2 separate regions of the Homo sapiens genome follow, and region 1 is linked to region 2. The links come from fine-mapping of genetic effects on gene expression. Tissue or cell type: pancreas. Region 2 holds a variant in brackets; the other region holds the start of a gene. All regions are shown on one strand. Distances are between the middles of the regions.

Region 1 (4,166 bases), 28 kb after region 2:
TTGGGGTTTTATATAATTATTCTGTGTTGCCTAAGAGTTCATGTTTGTTAAAATGTTAGGTGGTTTTGAAAATAAGGTATATTTTTCAGGTTATCAGATATATAATTTTATATAAACACAATCTATTGATGCAACATTATTCTATTCCAGTAATCTAGGACTTGATCACTAGTAGTGAGAACTAAAAAGAAAGAAGAGATACAAGGTGAATTTTAGAATTAGGATTGGCAGGATTTATTGGCCATATGATATATTGAGAAGCCATGAATGATGATTCTGAGATTTCAAAGCTGATAAAAAGATGGATGCCAATATAACTCACTAAACTAGAGAGGCAAGAAGAGAAAGTAGGTTGGGAATGTGGGGAGATTCAATAAAGAGATGTTTTGGCATAATAGGGTTTTAGTCATGTAAGGGATATGTCAGTCTACTAGGCATATTTACAAAAGTATAATTTTCTTTTTCTATAAATTAACTGAATTCCTATTAGGAACCTTATTTTGCCTGGTCACAGAAACTGAAACTTAGTCAATTCATAGTTGATCATATCTTCTCCAAGTTATTTTTAAGTTCCAAAAGAGGTAAGCAGTGATGAGGTATCTCGGAGAGCGTTTATTATGTTAACCTACTAAAACATCTTCATTCTCATCTGATCTTCTGTCACTAATCTAGGTACAACTGCTGAGTTCTGTCTCATTCTTATTTTTAATAAAATTTGTAAAGCTCTTTGGGTGAGGCCCATTCTTTGGTACATTGGTTGGTCCTGCTACTCAAGCATCATCCTAGGTCCTTAGGTTATAAGTAAGTCCCAATAAGGGCCACAAAATAGTATTTCTCTTGAACTACTTCAGAGAGCCCAGCCTCATCTCACCTCAAATTCTTTCTAAAAAGTCTTGCATCATGTCTCAGACGAGTCCTAATATGTGGCATCCACTATTTTTCTTGTCTGTTTCTCTGCCTGCAAGTGGTAATGTCCTGTTGGTAGTGGAAGCACTGGGGTTACCTCTCATTGTTGCTGTGGAAGCTGGTACCAAGTGTTTCTGATGCCTTGGCCCTTTGCGTCCCAAGACGTCTGTGAAAGAAAAGAAAGAAAGAAAAGAAAGAGAGAGAGAGAGAGAAAGAAAGAAAGAAAGAAAGAAAGAAAGAAAGAAAGAAAGAAAGAAAGAAAGAAAGAAAGAGAAAGAAAAAGAAAGAGAGAGAGAAAGAAAGAAAGAAAAAGAAAGAGAGAGAGAAAGAAAGAAAGATTCTTTAGCTTTTTCAGTGTCACTTCCTTACCATAGGTTCTAGCTCCCCAGGCCCTGGCATCTACTAATTCTTCCTGGCTGGCCCAGACTAGATTCAAAGTAGAATTTTTGCTATATTTCAGAACCCCTTTGTCCCAGGAGACAATATAGAAGAGTGGTTAATTAATTTGGGTTCTAGAATCTCTGTAAGACTTATCAGTCCCAGATGTGTGATTTTAGAAGAATTACTCAAATCTCTGCTTCAACATCTTGAAAATGTGAATTGTGAAAATGTCTAGTTAAGAGATCATTTGTAAGATTAAGTGAGGCAATATTAAAAAAAATACATACTACAATCCTTGATGCCTAAAAGTGCTCCAAATACCAGCTGTTAGGAATATATCTGCAGTAGTTCCCCACCCAGCCACAGTTCTAGTTACTTACAGTCAACCACAGTCCAAAATATTAAATACGCTGGGTGCAGTGGCTCATGCCTGTAATCCCAGCGCTTTGGGAGACCAAGGTGGGTGGATCACCTGAGGGCAGGGGTTCGAGACCAGCCTGGCCAACATGGTGAAACCCCGTCTCTACTAAAAATACTAAAATCAGCCAGGTGTGGTGGCAGGTGCCTGTAATCTCAGCTACTCAGGAGGCTGAGGCAGGAGAATCACTTGAACCTGGGAGGCAGAGGTTGCAGTGAGCCAAGATCACGCCACTGCACTCCAGCCTGGGTGACAGAGCAAGCCTCCATCTCAAAATAAATAAATAAATAAACACAAAATTCCATAAATAAACAATTCATAAGTTTTAAATTGCATGCTGTTCTGAGTAACACAAAATCTTGCACTACGCAGCTCCACACACCCAGAATGTGAATCATCCCTTTGTCCAGTGTATCCACACTGTAAACACTACCTGCCCATTAGTTATTGAAATCATATGCTTCTGAGATCCAGCCACTAACATCACCATGGCTCAGTGACCCAGCATCACCCGAAGGAGATGATCCCCCTTCTGAGCTATGGTCAGAAGATTAGCAATAGCCTAATGCTATGTCACAATGCCTATGTCGTTTTCCTCACTTCCTCTCATCACATAGGCATTATATCATCTTACATCAGCACAAGAAGAAGAGTGAGCATAGCACAGTAAGATATTTTGGGGGAGACAGAGTTCACATTCACATAACTTTTATAGTATTGTTATGATAGCATATTGTTATAATTGTTTTATTATTAGTTATTGTTATTAAAATCTTACTGTGCCAAATTTATAAATTTAACTTTATCATAGGTCTGCATGTATAGAAAAAAAGCACTGTATATATAGAGTTCAGTATTATCGACTGTTTCAAGCATCTACTGGGGGTCTTGGAACATAGCCCCATGAATAAGGAATAACTACTATATATTGTAAAGTTAAAGTATAAACCTAATATCTAGAGTTCATTTATTTATTCAACAAATATACCTTTGGCACTGATGGCCTGCTAGACTTTCAGCCCAATACTGGTGTAAAATGATAAATAAGACAGTCATGGAATCTACTCGGATTTCACAGTCTAATCAGAGACACAAATAATTGATATAGTAACAATTGTGACAAGTGCTATGAAAAAAAAAGGAATGGGTGCTGTAAAATTTGTAATGGGAAAGAGGACCATCTCTTCACAGAGGATACAGAAGCTGCTTCCTTCTGCATCTCCCACTGTTGGCTAGAATACATTTCTGTTTATTAGGATTGTCATTTGGAAAGGCTGCATATTGAATCTGTATGGCTCAGGGTCAGACAGGGACATTTCAATTGCAGCTGAGAGTATGGCAGTTGCAGAACAACCACAGATCAGGAAGATGAGAAGAGTAGCATGATGACCCTAAAGAAATACCAAACCCAGGAGGCAGAAGAAAGAGCCATCTAGTCCTAGCGTGGAGCATATTGTACTTCTCCATTTTCTAATCCCAGAGCACCATGTGGCCTTAGGGGAATATATGGATGAAAAGAAAAAGCTGGTGTGCTGGTAAGCCACATACTTGTTTTCAAATGATGCGCACATCTCCCCTCTTTATCTCTAAAGTCTATGAACTAGGTCAGCTCCCAACTCGTGGCACCTACAGTGAACCAGACGCTGAGCCAGGGGAGGTCTAGATAACAAGAGACGATCTCTGACAGTTGCTGAAATTCTTCTTTACCTTTTAGAGCAAAACTCAGAGGCTGTCCTGTTCTGATATTTAAGTAAAATCACGAATTGCTGGTAGTTGGTGACCTAGTCAGTGAACGAGCTCCTTATCAATAGTGGGAGAATGATAGTAATAGTCCGTTCTGGGGAAAAGAATTTGGCACTGTAATGGTCTTGGGGTTTTTTAACTTTGGCTTTGTAAGCAACATTATTTTTGCTTGGGTTAAAGCCTCTTCCAGCTGTTTATCAACATAGATAAAAGTATATTGCTTTATTATTTCTCCTTGAGTCATATTCAACACTTTCTTTGCATGGGCAATGCCAGTATCCCACTGAGCATGTCCTCTCTGAGGTTGAGGTTTCCAGGTCTTTTTTTCTCAGAGTGATTGCTGGCTTCTTTGGGAGCCTCAGCCAGTAATTCTTTATACTGTTTATGACCTTTATACTCCCATACCTGCTTTTCATGAACCCACGCCCTCACTGGCTGGTTGCTAAGAAATTGGACATGATATGACCAGGCACCCCTTGTGTCAATTTTAGTATGAACTTCCAGCTGGGGCTCACTTGAGACCAAGGTAGGAACCTAAGGTAGAAATGATAGGTTCCTGCCTTGGGCTTTTTCTGTTTGGTAGGTTTTTTACTACTGATTCTATTTCAGATCTCATTATTGGTTTGCTCAGGCATTCAATTTCTTTCCAGTTCAACCTTGGGAGGTTGTACTTTTCCAGGCATTTATCAGTTTCTTCTAGGCTTTGTAGCATGTGTGC
Region 2 (4,166 bases):
TCACCACAACCTCTGCCTCCTGGGTTCAAGCGATTCTCCTGCCTCCACCTCCCGAGTAGCTGGGATTACAGGCATGTGCCAGCATGCCCAGCTAATGTTTTATTTCTAGTAGAGACGCGGGTTTCTCCCTGTCAGTCAGGCTGGTCTTCAACTCCTGACCTCAGGTGATCTGCCCGCCTCGGCCTACCAAAGTGCCGGGATTACAGGCATGAGCGACCGCGCCCGGCCCGTGCTGTATCCTTATCTGGTGTCTGTTGTTGTTTGTTTGTTTGCTTTGGAGCCCAGAAATAACTTCTCACCTGTATGTTCAAATGATTTTTCACATGAGTTCTAAGAAAGCTCATTGGTGGAAAAGCAGCCTTTTCAAGAAATGGTGTTGGAGAAACTTGATTTCCACATGCAGAAGAATGAAGGTGGACCCTGTGTCACACCACGTGCAAAAATTAACACAAACTGGATCAAAGACCTAACCCCAAGGACTAAAAGTATCATAAGCCTAAAAGAAAACATTGGCCACACTTTCATGACATCAGATTGGGCAACGTTCTCTGGGTATGACACCAAAAGCATAGGCAACAAAAGAAAATTAGATTCCTTGGATTACATCTAAATGACAGACACTTTTGTGCAGCAAAAAACACTGCAAATTCAGAGAAAAGATAACCCATGGATTAGGAAAAATATTTGCAAAGCATATATCTGAAAAGAGGCTGATATCCATCATATATGAAGAACAGCTAGAACTAAACAACAAGAAACCCAAAGCATCCCATCAACAATGGTCAGAAGACTCGAGTAGACGTGTCCCTAAAGAAGATATCGTAATGGCCAATAAGCATCTAAAATGATGTTCAAAGTCACTCATCATAGGGAAGCGCAAATCAAACCAAGAATGTGACACCACACATTAGGATGGATATGATAAACAAACAGGTATTGGTTAGAACAGAGGGAAGTAGGAATGCTCGAATGTGATCGGAGGGAATGTAAAACCATGAAGGAACCGGGAAAATAGTATGGCGTCTACTGGAAAAATTAGAAACAGAATGATCAGATGTTCCCACAGTTGCATTTGTGGGTACCTGCCAAAAAGAATTAGAAGCCAGGAGTGGAAGACAGATTTGTGTACACCCATATTCATAGCACCATTATTCACAACAGCCAAAATGTGGAAGCAACCCAAGGGTTCGTAGACAGATGAATGAAAAAGCACACTGCAGTTCCTTCATACAATGGAAGACAATTCAGCCTTCAAAAGGCAGGCACTTCTGGCCGGTGTGGTTGCTCACGCCTGTAATCGCAGCGTCTTGGAAGACCGAGGTGGGTGGATCACCTGAGGTCAGGAATTCAAGACCAGCCTGGCCATCTTGGTGAAACCCTGTCTCTACTGAAAATGCAAAAAATTAAATGAGCGTGGTGGCGTGTGCCTATAGTCCCAGCTACTCAGTAGGCTGAGGCACAAGAATCGCTGGAACCCGGGAAGCGGAGGTTGCAGTAAGCCCAGATTGTGCCACTGCACTCCAGCCTGTGCGACAGAGTGAGACTCCATGGGAACACAAAACAAAGCAAAGTCAAACGAACAAACAAAACACAAACAAACAAAAAACAGACAGGCACTTCTGACGCAGGCCGCAACATGGATGAACCTTGAAAACATTATCGTCAGTGAAATAAATAAATCCCAAAAGGATAAACAGGCCCAGGCTCAGTGGCTCGCAACTGTAACCCCAGCACTTAGGGAGGCTGAGCCAGGCGGATCACTTCAGGTCAGGAGTTCGAGACAAGCCTGGCCAATATGGTGAAAGCTCGTCTCTATTAAAAATCCAAAAATTAGCAGGGCGTGGTGGCGCACGCCTGTAATCCCAGCCTCTCGGGAGACTGAGACACAAGAATCGCTTGAACCCACGATGTGGAGGTTGCAGTCAGCCCAGACTACGCCACTGCACTCCAGCCTGGGTGACAGAGAAAGACTGTCTCCAAAACAAAAAAATTAAACAAGGTATGATTCCGCTTATCTATCAAGTGTCTAGAGTAGTTAAACTCATAGAGTTGCAAACTAGAAAGGTGGCCTCCAGGGGTGGGCGAGAGAAAGGAATGGAGAGCTTGGTGAATGGGTGGAATTTCCATTTTGAAAGATAAAACTGTTCCGGAGACGATGGCGGCGACGGTTGCTAAACAATGTGAACTTACTTAATGTCGTTAAACTGTAAACTGAAAAAGAGTGGAAACTGTAAATATTTATACAGACTATTCTCTATGAACTAATATGTATTTATAATTTTTAATATTTATACGTGGTATATTTTCCCATATTAAAAGATGAAAATTAAAGCAGTTGGATGTTTAAAAAGTAAAGAAAGAAGTGAAGAATACCCACCAGCTTTCTCCTGATTAGAGGAAGAGCCCCAAAGCTTCTATGGACACTCACTTTTCTCTTCTTCTTCTTGCAATATTATGAGGAAATCCTTAGAGGTTGGGGAACTTGGGCGACTTTGGCTAATGAGGAGCTCTGGG[C/T]CTTGAGCCCCCCAGCCCACAGAATAGTAAATAGTCTGTGCCTCCAGCCCTGCAATGTGAGGTTGCAGTCCTGTGGGCTCCACTCCCGTCACCTGTATCAGGGGGCTGATGACTCACCCTGTCTTCTTGCCAGCCTTGAGGACGGAGTCTGAGCCTCCATGGTGCACCAAGCAGGGAGGACAGTTGAACCTGTTCTCCATGGTCGTGGCCCAGCAGAGGGGAAGAGCAGTTCAGTGAATGTAGGCAAAAGAAAGTGAGATCAGACACTTACTCTGTCTATGTAGAAAGGAAAGACATAAGAGACTCCATTTTGAGAAAGACCTGTACTTTCAACAATTGCTTTGCTGAGATGTTGTTAATCTGTAGCTTTGCCCCAGTCACTTTGAACCAACCACTTTGACCCAACCTGAAGCTCACAAAAGTATGTGTTGTATGAAATCAAGGTTTAAGGGATCTAGGGCTATGCAGGACGTGCCTGGTTAACAAGATGTTTCCAAGCAGTATACTTGGTAAAAGTCATAGCGATTCTCTAGTCTCAATAAACCAGGAGCAAGATACTCTGTGGAAAGTCGCAGGGACCTCTGCCCTTGAAAGAGGCGTATTGTCCAAGGTTTCTCCTCATGTGATAGTCTGATAAGTGGCCTCATGGGAGGAGAAAGAACTGACCATCCCCCAGCTCAACCCCCATAGATCGTCTGTGCTGAGGTGGATTAGTCAAAGAGGAAAGACTCTTGCAGTTGAGAGAGAGGAAGGCCGCTGTCTCCTGCCTGCCACTGGGAACTGAATGTCTCGATATAAAACCCGATTGTACATTTGTTCAATTCTGAGATGGGAGAAAAACCGCCCTATGGTGGGAGGCGAGACATGTTTGCAGCAATGCTGCCTTCTTATTCTTTACTCCACTGAGATGTTTGGGTGGAGAGAAACATAAATCTGGCTTACATACATGTCCAGTCATAGTACCTTCCCTTGAACTTCATTATGACATAGATTCTATTGCTCACATGTTCATTGCTGACCTTCTCCTTTTTATCATCCTGCCCTCCTACTACATTCCTTTTTGCTAAAATAATAAAAATAATAATCAGTAAAAACTGAGGGAACTCAGAGGCCGGTGCCGGTGCAGGTCCTTGGTATGCTGAGTGCCGGTCCCCTGGGCTCACCGTTGTTTCTCTATACTTTGTCTCTGTGTCTTATTTCTTTTCTCAGTCTCTCATCCCACACGACTAGAAATACCCACAGGTGTGGAGGGGCAGGCCACCCCTTCAAGTGAGTGCTGAGGGACGGTCGGGAGCCTTGTTTGTTTCCTCATTCTCAAGACAAACAGGAGAGTGCGGTGGGTAGATGGGAGGAGACCAATATGCAACTCTCTGCTCAGCAGACTGTGGAGTTTCTGTTCTTGGTTGTGGTGGGGGTCTCAGAAATCTTATTCAAAATTTTGCTTTCCTCCCCCACTGGTTGTCCTTTTCATAGATATCTCACCCATGATAGCAGGGAATCAGTCCCTCTAAACTATTCCCTAAGAACAACAAAAAGATTATGAAGGTGATGATGAGGATAAAGAGGATGACGACAGACACCATGGCATCATGAACCCTTACTGAGGGCTTCCTAAAGGCCAGGCTCTGAGTTCTTTGCTGTATGCAGCATAT

Direction of the effects. Positions count from the first base shown, and alleles are read on the strand shown. Sizes are in standard deviations (SD) of each study's normalised expression.
For the expression in pancreas of the gene that starts at base 2,327 in region 1, C is the high allele of the variant in region 2 and T is the other (moderate effect, 0.67 SD a copy in GTEx).

The links. PIP is the estimated chance that this variant, and not a neighbour inherited with it, causes the effect.
Region 1: DEFB134 starts here. The variant in region 2 is the best candidate, but not a certain one, in a credible set for the expression of DEFB134 in pancreas (GTEx, PIP 0.68).

Annotation. Positions count from the first base shown.
Region 1 is chr8:11,998,913-12,003,078 of GRCh38, reverse strand. It overlaps DEFB134 (defensin beta 134), which reads left to right and starts at 2,327. Exons shown (of 3, transcript NM_001302695.2): 1 at 2,327-2,371. It overlaps LOC105379245 (a long non-coding RNA gene), which reads right to left and starts at 946. Exons shown (of 3, transcript XR_001745644.2): 1 at 872-946. It also overlaps the pseudogene OR7E160P and the pseudogene LOC100421446.
Region 2 is chr8:12,027,230-12,031,395 of GRCh38, reverse strand. It overlaps the pseudogene OR7E160P. Among named protein-coding and RNA genes, the nearest start is that of DEFB134, 29 kb to the right of the region's middle. RefSeq lists an enhancer at 1-142. The variant C/T (reference allele first, on the strand shown) is at 2,515.